2 separate regions of the Homo sapiens genome follow, and region 1 is linked to region 2. The links come from fine-mapping of genetic effects on gene expression. A gene starts in region 2. The other region holds a variant in brackets. All regions are shown on one strand. Distances are from middle to middle. Region 1 overlaps ORC2 (origin recognition complex subunit 2). Region 2 holds the start of NDUFB3 (NADH:ubiquinone oxidoreductase subunit B3).

Region 1 (8,490 bases), 160 kb after region 2:
TGGGAGGCCAAGTTGAGTCCAGGAGTTCAAGACCAACCTGGGCAACTTAGTGAGACCCCGTCTCTACCAAAAAAACAATTAGCCAGGCATGGTGGTGTGCGCCTAGTTCCAGGTAATCGAGAGGCTGAGGTGGGAGGATTGCTTGAGTCCAGGAGTTGGAGGCTGCAGTGAGCTATGATTGTACCACTGCACTCTAGCCTAGGCAACAGAGTGAGACCCTCTAAAAATAATAATAATAATAATTGGATTTCTTTTCTTTTTAGATTCTTCTTTAGAACTCTTCCTTCTCATCCACAATTTGGATAGCCAGATGTTGAGAGGAGAGAAGAGCCAGCAAATCATTGGTCAGTTGTCATCTTTGCATAACATTTACCTTATAGCATCCATTGACCACCTCAATGCTCCTCTCAGTAAGTTAATTGTTACTATTTTTCCTTCTAGAGATATCAGTCTTACAAGACAAATTCTATTAATATAAATCAGAAAATTTTTACTGTTTTTAGTACGCTTTTTCCCCTTTTACATGTTTAAAAACACAGGTTGCCAAAAAGATGTTCTCAATCTAATTTAGAACATAATTTTTGGAAATAAAAATTCAGATACTAAATGAGGATGTTTTAGTCTAAAGTTAAATGGAGGGAAAAGACCCAACTATTATTTTGGTCTCTTTCTCTTCTTGTAATATCGCAACATTTATTTTATGAACTTAATTTATAGACTTTCTGATAATCCTGTAGAAGAAAATGTTAAAACATTACTAATTTTTTAAAAAGAATGCATTGGTAGTGCTAAGATTTTAATTTATGCTTAATTGAAAATAAAGGTTCAGATGTTGGTTGAAAATGAAATTAGATTGTGAGTTACTGATTTAGATATGGAAGTGGCAAAAATGAAAAACTTGGGGATTCATTTTTATTTAATCCTTTCTCATTCTTTTGTAAAGTGGAATCTAGTAACATGACAATATAAAAATAATTTGTAATTCTTGTTTTCTTTGATCATGTGCTAGTGTGGGATCATGCAAAGCAGAGTCTTTTTAACTGGCTCTGGTATGAAACTACTACATACAGTCCTTATACTGAAGAAACCTCCTATGAGAACTCTCTTCTGGTAAAGCAGTCTGGATCCCTGCCACTTAGCTCCCTTACTCATGTCTTACGAAGCCTTACCCCTAATGCAAGGTAAGGATGAAAACCATATTTCTTTTTTAAAAACTATACATTTTAAGATATGTACTACTAGGTTTTAATGGGGATACTGAAGTCCCTAGTTAGTTGAAGGATTAAGTGAAATTATAGTAATAATAGTTACCAGTACTGGATTATGGAGTAGGCAGACAAGTCAACAGTAGTCTATCAAATTGCCCAGTAATAAAGCGAGAATACCAACTTTTTATTTCTTTGATATTTCTGAATATGAGCACCTGACTGGTCATAATGGAGAAAAAGCAGACTTTTCATGACTTTTACTTAAATTTTATGGTTATTTTTCATTACATATTGAACATTCTGATCCAAACAGTGAGTACTTTATATGCATTACTTCATTTGATCCTAACTAAGGTGGATAGTCAGTGGCACAAAGACTTTGATCCAGATATGCCAGCTCCAAAACTCATGCTCTTAAACATCACTGTATAATGTCTCCAGTCAAGCCCTTACAGCAGCCTAACCTAGAGGCATATCTGAATTAATAAATGCAAGCTGGTTATAGCATAAGCCAGCAAAAAATAAATTGCATAATTAGCCGGACGCAGTGGCCTACACCTGTAATACCAGCACTTTGGGAGGCCAAGGCAGGTGGGTCACTTGAGGTCAGGAGTTCGAGACCAGCCTGGCCGACATGGGGAAACCCCATCTCTACCAAAAATACAAAAATTAGCCAGGTGTGGTGGCACGCACCTGTAGTCTCAGCTACTCAAGAGGCTGAGGCCGGAGAATTGCTTGAACCCAGGAGGCAGAGGTTGCAGTGAGCTGAGATTGCACCACTGCACTCCAGCCTGCGTGACAGAGCAATCTCTGTCTCAAAAAAATAATAAAGAAATTGCATAATTAGCCTGTTGAAAGAAGCTTTTAGTAACAAACTTTACCCCCTGACAAAAGCATAAAATTATAGAATTATATTTAACAAGATGAAGTGTTGAAAAATAACAAACCTTGCTGAGAATAGATAATTAAGAGCTGGATAGATGAAAAGAAATATTGTGTTCTTGGGTGGGTAGATTAAATATTATAAGAGTAGCAATTCTTTCCAAGTTAGAAATGTGTTAGACTTGCCAGGCACAGTGGCTCAAGCCTGTAATCCCAACACTATGCGAAGCTAAGGCAGGAGGATTGCTCCAGCTGGGACCTTGAGACCAGCCTGGGCAACATAGGGAGACTACATCTCTACAAAAAATTTTAAAAATTAATTGAGTGTGGTGGTGTACACCCATAGTCTCAGCTGAGGAGGCTGAAGGGAGCCGAGATTGCGCCACTGCACTCCAGCCTGGGTGATAGAGCAAGACCCTGTCTCCAGAAAAACAGGTATTAGATCTATAAATTAGTCAAAATGTAAATGAATTTTTTTGTTTTAAATTTGAAAGAAAATTTAGTTTCCTAAAGAATAAACAGTCAGCTGGGTGTGGTAGCTCACACCTGTAATCCCAGCACTTTGGGAGGCCGAAGCGGGTGGATCACTTGAAGTCAGGAGTTCGAGACTATCCTGGTCAACATGCTGAAACCCTGTCTCTACTAAAAACACAAAAATTAGCCGGACTTGGTGGCACACACCTGTAATCCCAGCTACTTGGGAGGCTGAAGTGGGAGAATCGCTTGAACCCAGGAGGCGGAGGTTGCAGTAAGCCAAGATCACGCCACTGCACTCCAGCCTGGGTGACAGAGTGAGCCTCTGTCTCAAAAAAAAAAAAAGAAAGAAGAAAAAAGAAAAAAAGAGGGAACAAGCAAGTCTAGCAGAGACAATTTCTTTTTTGTTTTTAAAGAGCAATGAAGGGACACTTGTGGTCAAGATGGCATAATACTTCTCACTCTTTCCTTTCATCCCCTCTTGTTCCAAACACACAGCATAATAGACAGAATTTAAAAATAAATACCCTGGCTCAAAATACAAACATCTCAATACAACAGAATGATAAATCAGTGAGCAGAGTTGAAGCCACAGCACAGCTGCATTCTTGGTTTAGAAGCAGCATTGGCAGCCAGGATATTGACTTATATGGGATGATAGTAGTGTGACGATATATATTGTCCAAACCAGATATTTTCGTTTAGGACAAATGCTGAACTGAACAGATGTTTGTTGTAGAAATAAAACCATATAAAATATATAGCATTCAAATGTATATATCAGTATGAATAAAAGTTTAAAATGTGCATGGAATTAGGTCTTTTTAGGTACTAAAAATAATAAAAAAAAATTAGGTACCAACCCTGGAGAAGAATAAAGGGGAATAGATAGAGGAGAGTGTACACAGGGACTTTGGGGATATCTTTTTTTTTTTTAACCCCCCCTAGCAATTTATTTTCCATTTATTTTTCTTTTACCTGTGTGTTTGTGGTGGAGGGATTAACTTTTTGTTGTGAGATGATTATAGATTCAGAAGAAGCTACAAAAATACATGCAGGGAAGTCTCATGTACCCTCCTCCCAAAGCACCAACTTCCACCAACCACCACCATCTCATATAAACACAGTACAGTATCAGAACCAAGAAATTGACATTGTTATAATCCCATCCATATTTGGATTTCACTATTATACATGCTGCACTCGTGTGTGTAAGTTCTGTGCAGTTTTGTCACTTGTAGCCTTGTATGACTGCCACCTCCATGTATACACTCAGCTGTACCATCACCACAAGACTCAAATGTTAACCCTCAAATGCTAATTTTAATGAATGTTGTTACTCTGTAAAGCTGATTTGAACACTGAAGATGAGATTAGCATTCAACTCGGCCAGGCATAGTGGCTCACCCCTATAATTCTACTACTTTGGGAGCCTGAGGAGGGAAGATTGCATGAGGCCAGGAGTTTGAGACGAACCTGGGCAACGTAGACCCCATCTCTACAAAAAGTAAAAATAAAGCCTTGCATTAATATTGGAATATGCAGGCTGGGCGCGGTGGCTCATGCTTGTAATCTCAGCACTTTGAGAGGCTGAAGCAGGCAGATCGTTTGAGGTCAGGAGTTCGAGACCAGCCTGGCCAACATGGTGAAACCGCATCTCTACTAAAAATTAAAAAATCAGCTGGGCATGGTGGTGCATGCCTGTAATCCCAACTACTTGGGAGGCTGAGGAGGGAGAATCGCTTGAACCCAGGAGGTAAAGGTTGCATTGAGCTAAGATCACACCACTGCACTCCAGCCTGTGCAACAGAGTGAGACTCTGTCTCAAAAAAAAAAAAAAAAAAA[G/AAG]GTGGGGCACAGTGGCTCACACCTGTAATCCCAGCACTTTGTGAGGCCAAGGCGGGCAGATCACGAGGTCAGGAGATCAAGACCATCCTGGCTAACATGGTGAAATCCCATCTCTACTAAAAAATTAGCCGGGCGTGGTGGCGGGCACCTGAGGTCCCAGCTGCTCAGGAGGCAGAGGCAGGAGAATGGCGTGAACCCAGGAGGCGGAGCTTGCAGTGAGCCGAGATCGCACCACTGCACTCCAGCCTGGGCGACAGAGCGAGACTCCGTCTCAAATAAAATAAAATAAAATAAAAAAATTGAAATAGGCATTAAATGGTTATCTAATGAAATTTTTTGATGGAATTGGGGACAAAGTCTTCATTCTGTTTTGTTATTACTAATAATAAAAGTCCTTAACTGCTGAAGGACTGTTGGAAGTTGCTGTGTGTAAAGTTGAGGGTCCATGCAGTGTGAGAACTCAAAACGTTAAATATGGCACTGGCTACGCTGATGCAAGTTTTTTTTTTGAGATGGAGACTCATGGTGTCGCCAAGGCTGGAGTGCAGTGGCAAGATCTCGGCTCACTGCAACCTCCCTCTCTGGGGTTTAAGGAATTTTCATGCCTCAGCATCCCACAAGTAGCGGGGACTAGAGGCATGCACCACCACACCTGGCTAATTTTTGTATTTTTAGTAGAGATGGAGTTTCACCATGTTGGGCAGGCTGGTCTTGAACTCTTGACCTCAAGTGATCCACCCACCTTGACCTCCCAAAGTGCTGGGATTACAGGCATGAGCCACCATGCCCAGTCTAATGCAAGTATTTTTTAGTTTGGCATGCCTAAATGTCTGTGTGCTAGCCTCAGCATTTTCTTATTTAAACTATTTTGAAATTTTGCTTGATTCTGCAAACTCCAGTATCATTTAGACTTTACTTGGTATGTGATTGAATAAAAATTTTAACCAAAATTCAGCTCTGGAGTTAGTAGTAGTACCTAGTTAAAAAGTAGTCATTGAGGGCCGGATGCGGTGGCTCACTCCTATAATCCTAGCACTTTGGGAGGCTGAAGTGGGCGGATCACTTGACGCCAGGAGTTCAGGACCAGCCTGGCCAACATGGTAAAACGTTGTGTCTACTAAAAATATAAAAAATTAGCTGGGCGTGGTGGTGTCCACCTGTAATCGCAACTACTCAGGAGTCTGAGGCATGAAAATCGCTTGAACCTGGGAGGCCAAGGTTGCAGTGAGCCAAGATCGCACCACTGCACTCCAACCTGGGCAACAGCGAGATTCTGTCTCAAAAAAAAAAAAGTGTTCATTGAGATGATCCAAAATATGATTATAGTAATTGTTTTCTGGACCTGCATAACAATGAAAATTCATATAAGTTTTGAATTTTTGGCATACCCAAGGACTGATGGGAGTCTTAGTTTGTGTAATACTGCTTCTAACCCCATAATTCTACTTGGTTCACTCTTCCATGGAATAATTCAAAATACAAAGAAATACGTACAGTTTTATTTAGTGCTGAGTTATTTTTTCTGTATCCAGTCATCCATTAAGAGTTATTTTTAATCTAAACTTAGAAATAATGTAAACATCCAAACCAATAGGGAAATGGTAAGTTTATGGTACATGGTAGATAAGCAGTTGTTAAAACTTCCTTAAGTTCTTCTTACATGTGGCAAAAAAAAAGAAAAGAAAAACTTGTTTAGGAGAAGTTTTAAAGACATGGGAAAAATCAGGCCGAGGCGGGTGGATCACCTGAGGTCGGGAGTTCAAGACCAGCCTGACCAACATGGCGAAACCCCGTCTCTACTAAAAATACAAAATTAGCTGGGGTGGTGGCACATGCCTATAATCCCAGCTACTCGGAGGCTGAGGCAGGAGAATCGCTTGAACCCGGGAGACAGAGGTTGCGGTGAGCCAAGATCGCGCCATTGCACTCCAGCCTGGGCAACAAGAGCGAAACTCTGTCTCAAAAAAAAAAAAAAAAAAAAAAAAAAAAAGACGTGGGAAGAATCAAAAAGTGAAGAAGCAAGGTATAAAGTGGTATATGCAGTATATAAATGTGTGAATTTCTGTTATTTCCACCCGCCTCATTGCACAAAGATTTGAGATAACAGCATACCCAGTATGATCTCAACACCAAGTGTTAATGGATATGGGATTGATATTTTTCTCTTTAGATGTTATTCTGTATTCCAGCTTTTCTACCAACACTAACCTAAAAAGTAAGAAAAAAATACTTTCATATTTTATTTTTTTGAGACAGGGTGTCTGTCACTCAAGTACAGCCTCAAGCTCCCAGGCTCAAGTGATCTTTGCACCTCAGCCTCCCGAGTAGCTGAGACCATAGGCGCATACCAGTATGCCTGGCTAATTTTTTAATTTTTTATAGAGACAGAGTCTCACTATATTGCCCAGGGTGGTCTCAAACTCCTGGGCTCAAGCAGTCCTCCCACCTCAGTCTCCCAAAGGGGTGAGATTATAGGTGTGAGGCACCACACTCAGCCTATATTTTTCTTTAGAAGAAATAAAAAAGCGGGCCGGGTACAGTGGCTCACGCCTGTAATCCCAGCACTTTGGGAGGCCGAGGCGGGCGGATCACGAGATCAGGAGATCGAGACCATCCTGGCTAACACGGTGAAACCCCATCTCTACTAAAAATACAAAAAATTTAGCCAGGCATGGTGGTGGGCACCTGTAGTCCCAGCTACTTGGGAGGCTGAGGCAGGAGAATGGCGTGAACCCGGGAGGCAGAGCTTGCAGTGAGCCAAGATCATGCCACTGCATTCCAGCCTGGGCAACAGAGCAAGACTCCGTCTCAAAAAAAAAAAAAAAAAAGAAATTAGAAAGCTTTCTGTTTAAGTAGGCAAGGATATGATATTCCTTGGAGGAACAGAAGATAATGCGGATAGGCCAACTACTTGACATTTTCTTTGTGTATTTTACTATTAGTTGTTACCTTTTGATGTTAACATTTTTGGATTTAAATTCCTGTTTTTTTTTTTTTTTAGGGGAATTTTCAGGCTACTAATAAAATACCAGCTGGACAACCAGGATAACCCTTCTTACATTGGTATCCAATATTTATGACATTCAATTGTGTAATTTTTGTTTTACCCTGTACATTTCCTGTCTCTGGAATTTAATGACAGCAGTGCAGTTTTTCACAGCAGTGAGTAAGTGGTCACTCATGATGGGTATGTCTGCCACATAGCAAATTTTCAAGCAGCTCTACAGATCCACTGCTGAGCAAGGTGTTTGCCAACACAAATTGAAAGACAAACCCAGCTTACTTTTAAAATTTTCTGTGCTAACTATGGATGTGTATCTGCCAAGTACATATTTTTCATATTCTAGGCATCTTAGGAGATTTTCTTCCCCTTTGGCAAAAATGATTTCAACAAACATTTTAATAATTGTTCTGCTCTCATGACTTACTTGTTCCTTCTTTAAAAGTCCTATCAATACTTGTTCACTGCTCTGGGATAACATGCAAATAGCACTTTTATTCTGTTCTTTTGTATGGGTGTTTGTATATTGGGTCATGTCTTAAGTGCTGACTTATGTTCATATCCTTTTGAACTTGCCAGGCCTTTCTTTTCAAGATTTTTACCAGCAGTGTCGGGAGGCATTCCTCGTCAATAGTGATCTGACACTCCGGGCCCAGTTAACTGAATTTAGGGACCACAAGCTTATAAGAACAAAGAAGGTAAGACTCCACTATTGTAGCATTGTATGCCAGGAATAGTCCGTATCATTTACTTAAGGACACATATATGTTTGACTTAGACCTGATTTTGAAACTGATGTTCCCTGTTGAGTCACAGAGATTCATTTAGGGGATGTGCCATTTGAGTTTGTAGAAAGAGCCATGGTAGAAGTACCCTGCTTCAGAGCAGAGCAGAAAACTCACATGTTCTAGTCCAGAGTAATAGGCAATTAGAAACATGGTGAGTCAAATAATTCTGTTCTTTTGTTTTTTCCCTCTTGCTCATTCATTAATTTGGTCTGTATTTATTGAGTACTAACTACATAGATATTGCACTAAGTATTAGGATACAGTAGTAAGCAAAAATCTGATTGCTTTTCTT
Region 2 (8,490 bases):
GATATGAGAAAAAAATTGTACATACTAACTGTGAAAAACCAACACTTATTATTTGTAAACATGTTAAGATACTAAAAAACATTATGTTGATGATTTTCACATTTAATTATATATATATATATATATATATATATATTTAAAGATAGAGGGTCTTGCTCTGGATCATAGCTCACTGCAGCCTCAAACTCCTGGGCTCAAGTGATTGTCCTGCCTCAGCCTCCTGAGTAGCTAGGACTGGAGTGTGCACAACGCCTGGCTAGTTTTTAAATGTTTTATAGCGATGGACCCTCCCTATGTTGTGCAGGCTGGTCTCAAACTCCTGGCCTCAAGTGATCCTTGATCCTCTGGCATAGGCCTCCCAAAATGCTGGGATTACAGTGGGATTACAGCCACACCCAGGAGGATTTTCACATTTAAATGAAAATGAAAATGAAAACCGATACTCTCAAACACAAGTTAAAATTACAACACAACTCTGAATGAAACATTTAACCCATTATTACTTGGTAGATTCAATAAAATGAAGGAAAAAAATTATGGTGTCAGACTTCAGACTGACTTTTGAGACTGAATACATTTATTACAAACGAAGACCATTACAAGTGTTTATTTAGAATGATAATGTCTTGGCTTCTGCATACCATGTTTTCAAAAAATCTTTTTTAAAATAAGGCTTCATTTTAAAAACACTTAAAACAAGACAAACCCTTATTTTGGCAAATGTCAATTCTAGAATATCAACCTGAGTATCAGTGTATTTGGAAGAGAGTATAAAACAAAGGGTCAAGAATTTTGATAGAATAGTTTTTGAAAATAAAACTTGAAACATTACCATGGTATAAAGACTATTTCAAAATTACAATACTACTGTGCTTAAACAAGTAATTTGAAAGATAAATCTTTGAAAGAAAACATGAAAGCGTACATACCCTCATTTCTCCTATACAAGTTTATTTAAATACATTCAATGTATTTTCTCTTCTACCTAATTATTTCAGAAGTATCCTTTTCATAGGAATTTACTAAATATACCTTTTTTTTTTTTTTTTTTTTTTGAGACAGAGTCTCGCTCTGTCGCCCAGGCTGTAGTACAGTGGCGCAATCTTGGCTCACTGCAACCTGTGACTCCCAGGTTCAAGCAATTCTCCTGCCTCAGCCTCCCGAGTAGCTGGGACTACAGGAACCCCCCACCACGCCTGGCTAATTTTTTGCATTTTGTAGTAGAGATGGGGTTTCACCGTGTTAGCTAGGATGGTCTCGATCTCCTGACCTTGTGATCCGCCCACCTGGGTCTCCCAAAGTGCTGGGATTACAGGCATGAGCCACGGTGCCCGGCTAAATATAACATATAAATGACTTTTCAAAAAGAGCAGAAAGTTGAAAACACTTTCTCTAGGAAACCTTTCATTTTCTTTTTTCTTTTTCTTTTTTTTTTTTTTTTCAGACAGGATCTTCCTATGTTGCCCAGGCTGCTGTTGAACTCCTGGCCTCAAGCATTCCTCCCTCCTTGGCCTCCTAAAATATTGGGACTACAGGCGTGAGCCATGGCACCTGGCCCATTTTTCTTTTTAAACTTATTTCTATTTCCAAATAGCCATAAATCAAACAATGATATCGTGACCTGTAAAGTAAGAGCTTGAAATTCTCCTACTTTGCACTAGTAAAAGTAAAATCCAAGGCAAATCACTTAATTTCCCTGAACTTCAGTTTCTTCATATAACATGAAGATAAAACCTACCTTGCAAGATCGTGAGAGCTGAGGAAAACACATTGTGATGTGCCTTCTACTTTCATACTTAGGTGGTGAGAATGTAACTAAGCACAACCATTCTGAAAAACTGGCAAGACCTAGAAAGGCTGAACATGGCTGGGCGCAGTGGCACACGCCTGTAATCCCAGCAATTTGGGAGGCCAAGGCAGGTGGATCACTTGAGGCCAGGAGTTGAGACCAGCCTGGCCAACATGGGGAAACCCTGTCTCTACTAAAAATACAAAAATTAGCCAGGTGTGGTAGCACACACCTGTAGTCCCAGCTACTCAGGAGGCTGAGGAATGAGAATCACTTGAACCCAGGAGGTGGAGGTTGCAGTGAGCCGAGATTGCGCCACTGCACTCCAGCCTGGGTGACAGAGTGAGATTCTATCTCAAAAAAAAAAAAAAAAAAAAGCTGAACATATGAATACCTTATGGCCATCAATTCCACTCCTAGTACATATATTCTAGATAGACACTGTCCAATATGGTAGCCACTAGCACTTGAAATGTGGCTGGTGCAGTTGGGAACTGGGAATTTTAATTTAATTTTAATTAACTTAATCTCAAAACAGATGATCAAATCGTTATTAGAAAATATTAATGTGTCTTTGGAGGCCAGGAGCGGTGGCTCACGCCTGTAATCCCAGCACTTTGGGAGGCTGAGGCAGGTGGAACACCTGAGGTCAGGAGTTCAAGAAAAGCCTAACCAACATGGCAAAATCCCGTCTCTACTAAAAATAAAAAAATTAGCTGGGCATGGTAGCACATGCCTGTAGTTCCAGCTATTAGGGAGGGTGAGACAGAAGAATCACTTGAACCTGGGAGGTGAAGATTGCACTAAGCCGAGATCGCGCCACTGCACTCCAGCCTGGGCGACAGAGCGAGACTCTGTCTCAAAAAATATACAAATAAAATAAATAAATAAAAGTGTCTTTGGAACAATTTGGATATATGAATCTACTTTATCAACTGTAAATCTTATAAACATAATCACAGATCAAAGGTTTATATTTATGGAATATAAAAAATATATTTAAAATATTTTCTTAGAGACATCAAGCCTCTAGTCTTTAAAAAAAAACAAATTTTTTTTTTGAGATGGAGTATCACTCTGTCGCCAGGCTGGAGTGCAGTGGGTGGTGCAATGTCGGCTCACTGCAACCTCCGCCTCCCAGGTTCTAGTGATTCTCCTGCCTCAGCCTACCGAGTAGCTGGGATTACAGGCGTGCACCACCACACCCGGCTAATTTTTTGTACTTTTAGTAGAGACTGGGTTTCACCATGTTGGTCAGAATGGTCTCGATCTCTGGACCTCATTATCCGCCTGCCTCGGCCACCCAAAGTGTTGGGATTACAGGCGTGAGCCACCGTGCCCAGCCTAAGAAATATGTTTTTAAAAGAACCTTTATAGCCACATTGTTTATTCTCTCTCCCAACTGTAAACAACCCAAATGTCCAATAACAATAGAAGGGATTATGGTATAGTCACACTGTAGAATATTATACAACAAAAAACTACATGCAAAAGTGTGATTGAATCTCCACAAATATGGATAATGAGCAAGGGGTGAGTCAGAAAAAAATACACATGCACTCTGAACCCATTTATATAGATTGAAATGCCTAACAATTCATTTTTTAGGAATTCATCATAGACGGAAAAATTAAAGTAAAACAAGTGAGTGCTTAGCACAAGTCAGGATAATGGTTACCTCTTGGTGGAGGAGATGGAATCACAGAAACATACTGGGAGATTCTAAGGCAGTGTTTTTCAACCAATTTTTAACTATTGTCCCTGTAAGGAACCTTTCTAGACATTTTATTCCTAATCACACCCCCCGCCATGAAAATTTAACACTACATATATACTGTATAACTGTTTATATACTGTGGCCCTTTGGAGGGACACAAATCATTGTAGTAACTAAGATTCCGACCCCGGCCCCACCAATTTTCAACCCCTTGAAATGTAAAATCACCCCTGTTAAGACTGCATGTTCTAAGTTATTGGCAATGCTTTATTTTCTAATCTAAGAGGTGGATACAGGAGTGTCTGCTTCTGTTAGTTATAATTTTTTAAAATGTATGTTTTATACACCCTTCTGTATATATACTTGACAATAAAAAATAAAAATAGAAAAATTGACTTAAATTGTGCTGAGGACTGAAAAATGGTGGTTATTTCCGTTTCAGAGCAGCTCAAATAATAACAGTAAGGAAATTAGTTAAATAAAGAAAAAACATGCAACCAAAAATTTTAAAAGCTATCTATGTCTGAAGTGAATCTAAAAGTCTCATGAAGATCAACCTCCACTAAAGGAAGCTGGCTCTAAGAAAATGTGCTGGTATCCTTTCCCTAAGAAAGAAATAAGAAGATAATGCTACTTCCACTACATGCAATTTTAGTTTACCGAAGACTATCAAGTATATATCTTAACTTCCTCGTATTAAAAACTGTGATTATATGAATATTAGAACATAAAAAACAAATGAACTGTTATTACTTTTAGTGATGCTGTTCTTCTGCCTTTGCGATCCAAAGGCAAACAAAGACAATTTTGCGTGTGGCAGAAGCGGGAACAAGCACCTGGATTTAACAACTACAGTAATGATCACTGAATCCTCCAACCACCTCTTCCTACCCCAACTCTAAACTAGGACTTCATTAGTTCTCGCCTGCTAGTTCTTTGATCTCCCTCCCAGCCTCCCATCCTTCTCCATTTAGTCTCTCCTTTTCTGCACTCCCCAGAATAGAGTCTAGCTCTTAATCCTAATCAACGGGCCTCCCACCAACTCCCTAATTTACCTGACAGCAATCTGACCTCTCAGGACACTCAACTCTGCAACCGGAGCCAACCGGAAACGGAGGTTGTCACCTCGAGTTTCTCACGGCAGGAAAGCGGAGAAGCCGCTTAACGTTCCGATACTGGGTTAGAGATTCCTGAATCAGGTAGAGACTACATGAGGGACGCTGGAAGTCGATTATTTTCCCAGTATATGTGCATCCTCAATCTGACTGAGGTAACAGATACTGTAGAAAAGAGAAGGGCGGGGAAGATAATATGTTGTCCTTGCTTGGGGACGGAATCCTTAGACACCGCACACAGGGCGGGGCTGCCGGCATACTGCAGCCAATAAGGGAGGCTGTTGTTGAGAGCGTGTTCTCACCCAATGAGAGGGTTGGTTGTTGCGCTGCAGTTGGCAGGCTGCTGCGGGAGGCGGCGGCGGTAGGAAGCCGGAGACAGCAGGGTGACAGGTAGGCGGCGGTGCTGTCTTTGGGGGAGGCAAAGTGCTAGATGAAGAGGGGTTTTCTTCTCCTTCGGCCGCGGAAACTACAGACGGGAGCTGGCGAGGGTGGTCTGGAAAGGCGGTAGCCGGTGTGTTGGTGGTCCCGGAACCTCTCGTAAACCAGGTAGCATCTTGGGAGGGTCGTGAGGAGGAGAAGGCGGCAGCCGAGGCGGGTGGAAGCCGAGCCTTGTGGGGCGACGTGGGGGCCCACCTAGGGCGTGGGGGCTGCGGTGGCGCCAGCAGAGAGGGAGGAGAGGCGGGAGCAAGGCGGTGTCGTGAGGGCTGAAGGGATTCTTTGCACAAAGCCCCAGGCGAGAAAAGGACACGGCATTGAAGACAGTTAAGAGAAATCCCAGTGATTGCTTCTTAGGGCCATTTCCTGGGGGTGGTGAGGGGGAGCGGAGAAGAAAAATATTTACTGGCGGTCAGATTCTGAACACTCATTATTGCTGTACATTATGTAATCTTTGGCTGTTATTTACCCAAACAACTAGGTTGTCCCTCCTGGGAGAGGAGGTCTTGCAACCTATTAATGTGTTAGAACACTTTTTTCATTGGCTTGAGTGCCATTTACATTGGCAGGTTCTCTAGGCGAAGGGTGGTAGCATGGAGGATAGAGTAGTCACGAAGAGCTTATCCCAATTATGGACTTGACAGATACTAGTTTGCGATGAATGTGGCCAGGTTCATGTTTTGTAGTTCGTGAATTTATTTGAGGGTCAAGGCTGACAACATTTTTTAAAGATCTTCAGAAAAGTGGGGAATCCTTTAAAAATGTACAGTAGGAGCTCAGTGTAAGTTGGAAAATGACTAGAAAATTAGTTGGTAGATCCCTTCCTCCCCCCAGGATATTGTGGAAGTTAGGGACTGTGCAAATAAGGTGGTGGTCTGAATATGGGGAAAAAAATAAACTTTTTTTTTTTTTGAGACGGAGTTTCGCTGTTGTTGCCCAGGCTGGAGTGCAATGGCGCGATCTCGGCTCACAGCAACCTTCGCCTCCCGGGTTCAAGCCATTCTCCTGCCCCAGCCTCCGGAGTAGCTGGGATTACAGGCATGCGCCACCACGCCCGACTAATTTTGTATTTTTAGTAGATACGGGGTTTCTCCATGTTGGTCAGGCTGGTCTCGAACTCCGGACGTCAGATGATCCGCCCGCCTCGGCCTCCCAAAGTGCTGGGATTACAGGCGTGAGCCACCGTGCCCGGCAGAAAAAAGTCAACTTTTAAGTAGTTTGTTCTGTAAGCAAGTCTGAGAAGCTACTTATGAATTATTTATTAGGTTTAAAAAGTGGACTCTGAACCTCTCGGACAGAGGCAAAATATATTTATAGATATAATTAACTAAATTATCTTATTTAAAAAAATTTTATAATTCATTGTTTCCACAATAAAATGTAGAATTAAAATAGGAATTCTATTCAGTATGTGTTATGGAAGGGCAAACGACATAAAAACTTGATTTTGTAGGTCATTGAAAAACAATTTTGAGAGCAGCACTGGAAAATGATTTTAAAAGAAGTGTTATAAATTTCTAAAATGTAAGGTGTTTGAAATATTGCCTTTAGCTTAGGAGATAAGGTCTAATGTAGTGTCAGCAACTCTACAATTTTCCTAAATTTATTTCGGTACTGCATGTCAGAAAAACTTTATAAGATGTGATTTTTTTCTATTAATGGTAATTTATATTCCTATATATGAACCTAAATCAAAATTTCATTTTTTCTCAAAAATTTAATTGGGAAAGAGGTGCATCATTAAAGTTGTTTGTTCCCAGATGTTCTCAGTACTGAGACATTTGTCAGTGCTTTAGATAAAAATTTTTATTGATGTTTGGTGTTTTGTTCTTTGTCTTTTCTCCTTTTCCAAGAATAATGCAATCTCAGTCACAAAGAAAATTTCTGGTTCTATTTTAGGTGGAATTCTGTAGTGTTTTGAGTACCAGTTAAATCTTTGCTTTTATGCGTGTGTGTGTGTGTGTTGCTTTTATGCGTGTGTGTGTGTGTGTGTGTGTGTGTGTGTGTGTGTGTGTGTGTGTTTCTTCTTATGTAACCAGCCTACTAGAGCTGTCTTAGAGAACTAATGGCTGATTTTGAATGGCCAGTAGGTGTCATTGTAGAATGCAGTAAGTTGAGTATCGAGTAGGAAATTACCAAGTAGCTAAAGAAACACTAGTCCAAATTAGCATATAGTGTGGTTAGATGATCGTTTATACGTTATAGAAGTTCTCTCTGATGAAACATTTCAGTATTGGAGCTGTTTATAAGGAATTTGAAACAATGATTGTAAAGGAGTTTAATTGTTTGCCCTAAAATAGACCTTGAAAGTGTGTTTTTTAGCCCGGCCCTTTAACTGTCTTGACATGCAATTCAGATTTAAGTTTGATTATTTGCAATACAGTTTTGGCATCTTGTAGTAGTTTATTAAGTTCTAGAATGATTGAAATTTTCAGCTTGACTGAGTCTTATAGAAAAACCAATGCTACATAGTGAAAAACTGATAAAATATGGGCAGAAGTTTCAAAACTAGTTATCATACCAGTACTTTGTATTGTTCTTTTTTTTTCCCCTTAGAGATCCTTGTTCCGAGTTACTGTTCTTTTAAAGCCAGAACAGAAGATTTTTTTGTCTGTCATCGTCTGTGGCTTATTATCTTTTTTTTGATTTCCAGAATTGCTTCTTTTTACACTTTATCTGGTCAGTAGCCTATGTTCTTTTCTTGGGATGTGGAACTGAACATTTATCACTGACTAAAATGTAGTGGATTCTGGAGGGAGCCAGCACAGAAAGCTCTGAAAGTAGCTTACATCTGTTCCGAGTACAGCTCCTTACCTTCCTAGCCTTCTGTTGAGCCCTTGTCACTTTGTAGCTCTGCTCCTTAAGCCTGTGATAGATACAGTGTTTTGAAAAAGTTTGGACCTAATTTAAGAATTCTTCATGGAGTTGGAAATAGATACCTCAAAACAATTTAGGAGTTTTTAAAAAGGCATACACATATCACTTATATCATCTCCACTTCCCTTCAGAATTTTACGGATGGGAGGAGTGTGAAGGGGGTAGATGTATTTTGGAAACAAATTCCCTTGATTAATTTGGTTCACCACTGGCTTCCACTTCAGAGTGGAAGTGCCTTGGTCTAATTCAAGGCTCTAGCACTTGTGGTATGAAGCAGTAACAGTAGTTTCAGCTTTAGAGAAAGGGCTGCCAAATCTACTAATTTACTAATACTTTTATAGCTCAATAAATTGTCACCATTTCATGTCATAGCTAGGATAGCTTTTTTTTTTCTTTTTTTGAGACGTAGTTTCACTTTTGTTGCCCTGGCTGGAGTGCAGTGGCGCGATCTGGGCTCACAGCAACCTCTGCCTCCCGGGTTCAAGCCATTTTCCTGCCCCAGCCTCCGGAGTAGCTGGGATTACAGGCATGTGCCACCACGCCCGGCTAATTTTGCA

What was found.
Region 1: its variant is fine-mapped to the expression of NDUFB3 in whole blood (INTERVAL, PIP above 0.99).

What each region holds. Positions count from the first base shown.
Region 1 is chr2:200,912,913-200,921,402 of GRCh38, reverse strand. ORC2 (origin recognition complex subunit 2) reads left to right here. Exons shown (of 18, transcript NM_006190.5): 14 at 264-410; 15 at 1,010-1,181; 16 at 7,411-7,472; 17 at 7,990-8,108. Among named protein-coding and RNA genes, the nearest start is that of NIF3L1, 28 kb to the right of the region's middle. The variant G/AAG (reference allele first, on the strand shown) is at 4,410.
Region 2 is chr2:201,068,131-201,076,620 of GRCh38, reverse strand. It overlaps NDUFB3 (NADH:ubiquinone oxidoreductase subunit B3), which reads right to left and starts at 4,620. Exons shown (of 3, transcript NM_002491.3): 1 at 4,562-4,620. HYCC2 (hyccin PI4KA lipid kinase complex subunit 2) reads left to right here and starts at 4,950. Exons shown (of 13, transcript NM_001321623.1): 1 at 4,950-5,011. RefSeq lists enhancers at 4,098-4,721, 4,858-4,947, 4,968-5,237, 4,722-5,347, 5,338-5,477.